Regions from separate parts of the Homo sapiens genome. Here region 2 is linked to region 1. The links come from fine-mapping of genetic effects on gene expression. A gene starts in region 1. The other region holds a variant in brackets. All regions are shown on one strand. Distances are from middle to middle.

Region 1 (2,500 bases):
CCCACTGTGGTCAGTGGCAGAGCTGAGTGAGGAAACCCAATTCCCAAGAATATAGCCTTAAATTTAGATGAACCTTCAAATTGTAATATTTCAATGTAAATAATACATGCAACTTAAAATGCATTTCTGGTCTCATCAGGTTTAGGTGAGGGAGTGGGGTGGGGACAGGATGTTACGGGAAAGTAGGGAAGAAAAGGACCCGGTTTACTAATCTGTGTCAATTATCATACCAACCCCTTTCATCATTGAAGATTTCAGCAACCAAATACTGAAGGTCAGTGCGGTACCAAGGGTTGGGGTTATATATTAAACAGTGTAGTCCCGAACCTGTAGAAAACTATTGATACCTTGCATAGAGATAGGCAATAATACATAAAGATTATTGAAAACTCTTGGTTAAAGTACTTTAGTAGTATTTGAAAACACAATAGGAAATTACCCTGTAGGAATGGGATGTGTTAGATCCCAGCCGTAGATACGGCACGTGTTAAACTTTCAGAAGGGGAAACATGCTTCACGGCTGATTGCAAATTTCTCATGCAATATTTGTCAGAATCCAGGAGCATTTTAAGTGGTCTTCTAACAATATAAGCCCCGCACTTTGGACTGGTAAGTACAACATTTTCATTTGGTAAATAATAATAATTTTAAACAGAAACAAGTCACGACCAAATAGCGACTCATCCTCCCCCAGGCATAAAACCCTTTAGCCAGCTAGCCGCCTTTCCACGGGGTAGAGTATAAACAGCAAACAAAACCGCTTTGGTACCGGGAGGAAAAAGGGGAAAGGAGTCGAGTCAAAACACCGTCTCTTAAGTTCCTCAAGATCAACCCAGGGGGAAGGGTCCTCCACCGGAAAGGGCCGGATTGCCTTCACAGGAAGGGAAAGTCACTCCGGAGCTCGCAGACGCGAATGCCACCACAGAGTTCCAAGGCGGCTGCCAGAGCGTCGGCCGTCAGTTAGCACCTCCCCCTCCTTCCCAGAGCTGTAGCTAAGCAACCATCGGGCTCCGGGAGAGTCTAGGCTCAGCTGCTGTATTAGTGCCTCTAGCGGGGAACTATGAGCGCTGCAAAACCCTATCACCATTTTTACCCTCCCCTCTCTCCACCCCCTTTGCCCCCGCCCACCTCTTCGCCACTTCGGCTCCTCCCTCTTCTCGCTCCGTCTATCTCTCTCTCTCTCTCTCTCTCCGCCCCCCCACCCCCCGCGTCTCTCTCTCTCTCTCTCTCTCTCTCTCTCTCTCTCTCTCTCTCTTTTTCCTCTCTCTCTCTCTCTCTTCTCTCTCTCTCTCTCACTCACTCACTCTCTCTCTCCCTCTCCCTCTCCTCTCCTTCCTCCTCCGCCTCCTCAGCTCTTGGGCTAGAATATCTATGGGTCGAAACGTGATGCGATGAATTCGAGAGAGAGCGAAACTAGGACGAGGAGTGCGGCGGAAGCGGCGGGACTCCCGGGCATGGGGGCTTCACCACAATAGAGGCAGCGCCCCCACCCGCCCCCGCCAGCCCCTCCGGAGCGAAGCCCCCAAACCCCCTCGGGAAAAGGATGGCGGCAGCACCTACCCAGATCGAAGCCGGTGGGTAGCTGTGTCGGGGGGTGGGGGGGTGCTAAGGGAATGGGGGCTTAGCGCGAAGGCTGTCAGTTTCTTTTGAAAAAGCTTCTATTTCTCTTCTCTACCTCCCTCTGAACCTCTTTTCCCCCCTCTTCCCCAGAGCTGTATTACCTGATCGCTAGGTTCTTGCAGTCTGGACCCTGCAACAAATCCGCTCAGGTAAGGGGAAGAAAGAGATCTGGGAGTCGTGGTGAATGGTCCCAGTGGGGAAATCGAGGCAGCGGGACGAGCAGTTCCGTTGAGGGTGAGGGAAAGGCCGGCCTTGACTAGTCAAACGGTCAGCGGCTGGGCTTTAAGTGTGGAGGGAGGAATGGGTTGATGGCCCGAGCTGCTCCTCATATCTGTGTTTCCCTTTTGCTCAGGTGCTAGTGCAGGAGCTCGAGGAGCATCAGGTACGGAGCCCCTTCGGGAAGGGTGGGGAGGGTTGAGGTGAGACTGGAGGAAGGGGAGGGCAAGTCAGGGGCGGAAGACGGGCTGGGATAGAGGCTTCGATCTGGGTACCCGTAGCTGTTGTCACCGGGGTGAATTGGCTTCTTCCCTCAAAAGGGGCAGACAACGCTGGGGTCTTAACTCGTCCCCGCTTTATGCTTGTGGGAGGCAGTTTTTCAGGATTTCCTTCTCGACCCCCCTTCCCCCCCCCCCCCATATACTTGTCTAGCTCTGAGCCAATAGCTATCAGGCCGAGAGAAATAAAGACGGTAAAGTGTTGAGGACTGGGACACAGGTTGGGTCCAGTTGATGGGGAGCGGAGGCTTTTCCTTCATCATTTGCCTCCGCTTCCCCCTTTCTTTTCGTCCGGCCCCCAGCTGATTCCGCGCCGCTTAGATTGGGAGGGGAAAGAGCACCGAAGAAGCTTCGAGGATCTGGTGAGTAAAGTTTTCATTTCAACT
Region 2 (3,023 bases), 62 kb before region 1:
TAAGACAAAATGAAATTTGCCTACAAAGAATCAGGGGCTTCATAAAGCACCTTACTAAGAAGAAAAAGAGAAAATATAGGACAATTGAGAGTAAAATGGAGTGGGGATGTGTTGAATGAGTATTTGTATCTTGAAAGAGGTAACAGAAATAAGAGACTTGCATCTTCATTGAATGGATATCGAAAATTTAAATGGAAGAAGTAATGGGATGGAACTAAAGATTACAGTCAGAATTTTACAGCTAGGAGTACACTCACTGTATAGATATTTTTTTAAAGCTTAAAGAAATTGGTGATTTTTCCACAGTTGTACAATTAATGAAGGAGCCAGGATTAGAACAAAAGTTTCCTGACCCTCACAGTATTACTCTTTCTACTGCATCATGCTGGAAAGGGCTATTTCGAGAGAAGTAAATTACTAATTAGCTCATCAGAATTTCAAAGGACTGGCCGGGCGCGGTGGCTCACGCCTGTAATCCCAGCACTTTGGGAGGCCGAGGCGGGTGGATCATGAGGTCAGGAGATCGAGACCATCCTGGCTAACAAGGTGAAACCCCGTCTCTACTAAAAATACAAAAAATTAGCCGGGCGCGGTGGCGGGCGCCTGTAGTCCCAGCTACTCGGGAGGCTGAGGCAGGAGAATGGCGTGAACCCGGGAAGCGGAGCTTGCAGTGAGCCGAGATTGCGCCACTGCAGTCCGCAGTCCGGCCTGGGCGACAGAGCGAGACTCCGTCTCAAAAAAAAAAAAAAAAAAAAAAGAATTTCAAAGGATACACATAAAATGCATTTGATGATGTTAGCTCAGGTGGGAAGCAAGGTTACTCAAACTAAGAAATTCACATCAAACACACTTGTAGAAAGATTTTAGTATTGTAATGCACTTTGAAGAAAGGGTAGGTACTTGAGGACTAGTGATTTAACTTTAGCTATATTATTTAAAATATAAAACAATAGGCTGGGCATGGTGGCTCACACCTGTAACCCTAATACTTTCGGAGGCCAAGTCAGGAGGATTGTTTGAGCCCAGGAGTTCAAGACCACCCTGACCAACATAGTGAGACACTGCCTCTAAAAAAATCTTTAAAAATTAGTGGGGCATGATGGTGCACATTTGTAGTCCCAGCTACTCGGGATGCTGAGGTTGGAGGATGGCTTGAGCCTTGGAGGTCAAGGTTGCAGTGGGCCATGATCACACTATGCCCAGCCTGAGCATCTCTTAAAGATGAAAAACCAATGCTGTGGCCAAACTCTCTGCCTGGATATGAAAAAGACATCCCAAGATGAGTGGGGTTGCGAAGGAAGCCATCATGGTCCTGAAAAAGAGCCTAAACCAGGCCTGCTAAGTCTGAGTTTGGAGCAGCAGAGACCCCCATTGGTGTGAGTTCCTGGAATATCACTTCCTAATAGGAGGTGAAACTCATTGAGAAGATGGATGACTACCTGACCCACCTCCACAGGCTTGCAGGCCCCAGACCTGGCTGGTCAAAAACTTCTTGTTGACAACTTGGATTCTCCCAAGCCCAGTGACCTATGACACCCAACAGCCTTCCCATGATCCTTCTGAACTGGAGGTTGTGCCAAAGCCACTTTCTCCAGTGTAAGACAGATTTTTAACCACCCTAGAACTCTCTCCTAGTTGGTCGACCAAATGAAAACAATAAAACCTCTTTTTTTTCTGCCATAAATAATATAGACAGACAGGTAGATAGGTGATTGAATAAAAAATATATATTTTAAATAGCTTTCTTAGTGCCTAGCAATAACCAATTAAAACAATATAAATTGGTGAGAGAA[G/A]AAGACCTCTTTCAGAGGTCTTAACAGAGCCCTGATATTTACCAGGCCTTGGGCAAGCCATTAAATCTCTTGGAGTCTTAATTTCCTTATCTCTAAAATGAGCATAATAAATGCCTACTACACAGAATTCTTGTGAGAAATATAAATAATACATGCAAACGTCTAGGCCAATGCTTAGCATATAATGGGTACAAAACAACATTGATCTATCTGAATTCCAGAAGAATTAACATTATTGAGTGAATTAAAATTTTAACAAGGAATATGCAGAACCTTTGTAAAGAAAATTTCACTGAAACATATAAAGGTGTAATTAAGTGAATCAAGAAACATGACAGTAGCCACTGAGTGGGATAAATGTTTATAAATAAATAAATAAAGCAAATGGAAAACAGAAAAAAGCAGGCGTTGCAATCCCAATTTCAGACAAAACAGAGTTTAAACCAACAAAGATCCAAAGAAAACAAAGAAGGGCATTACCTATAAAGGGTTCAATTCAACAAGAAGATCCAACTATCCTAAATCTCTATGCACCCAACACAGGAGCACCCAGATTCATAGAACAAGTTTTTAGAGATCTACAAAGAGACTTAGATTCACACAAAATAATAGTGGGAGACTTCAATGCCCCCACTTACAGTATTAGACAGATTAAGGCAAAAAATTAACAAAGATATTCAGGACCTGAACTCAGCACTGGATCAAATGGATCTGATAGACACCTAAAGAAGTCTCCAACCAAAAACAACAGAATATACATTCTTCTCATCCTCACATGGCACATATTCAAAAATTGATCACATGATTGGATATAAGACACTGAATGACTTTTGAGTAAATAATAAAATTAGGTCAACAATCAAGAAGTTCTTTTTTTTTTTTTTTTTTTTTTTTTGAGATGGAGTTTCACTCTTGTTGCCCAGGCTGGAGTGCAATGACGCAATCTCCGCTCACTGCAACCTCCGCTGCAACCTCCGCCTCCCAGGTTCAAGCAATTCTCCTGCCTCAGCCTCTGGAGTAGCTGGGATTACAGGCATGTGCCACCACCCCCTGGCTAATTTTTGTATTTTTAGTAGAGATGGGGTTTCTCCATGTTGGTCAGGTTGGTCTCAAACTCCTGATGTCAGGTGATCCACCTGCCTCAACCTCCCAAAGTGCTGCATTTACAGGCGTGAGCCACCATGCCTGGCCAAGTTCTTAAACCACCAATGACATTCTTCATAGAAATAG

What was found. PIP is the estimated chance that this variant, and not a neighbour inherited with it, causes the effect.
Region 2: its variant is fine-mapped to the expression of BRWD3 in lung (TOPMed, PIP 0.99).

What each region holds. Positions count from the first base shown.
Region 1 is chrX:80,808,515-80,811,014 of GRCh38, reverse strand. It overlaps BRWD3 (bromodomain and WD repeat domain containing 3), which reads left to right and starts at 1,138. Exons shown (of 41, transcript NM_153252.5): 1 at 1,138-1,574; 2 at 1,711-1,769; 3 at 1,973-2,002; 4 at 2,417-2,476. The coding sequence starts at 1,544. It overlaps LOC124905202 (a long non-coding RNA gene), which reads right to left and starts at 2,207. Exons shown (of 2, transcript XR_007068278.1): 1 at 1,722-2,207. RefSeq lists an enhancer at 824-903.
Region 2 is chrX:80,869,875-80,872,897 of GRCh38, reverse strand. No RefSeq gene overlaps it. Among named protein-coding and RNA genes, the nearest start is that of BRWD3, 62 kb to the right of the region's middle. The variant G/A (reference allele first, on the strand shown) is at 1,794.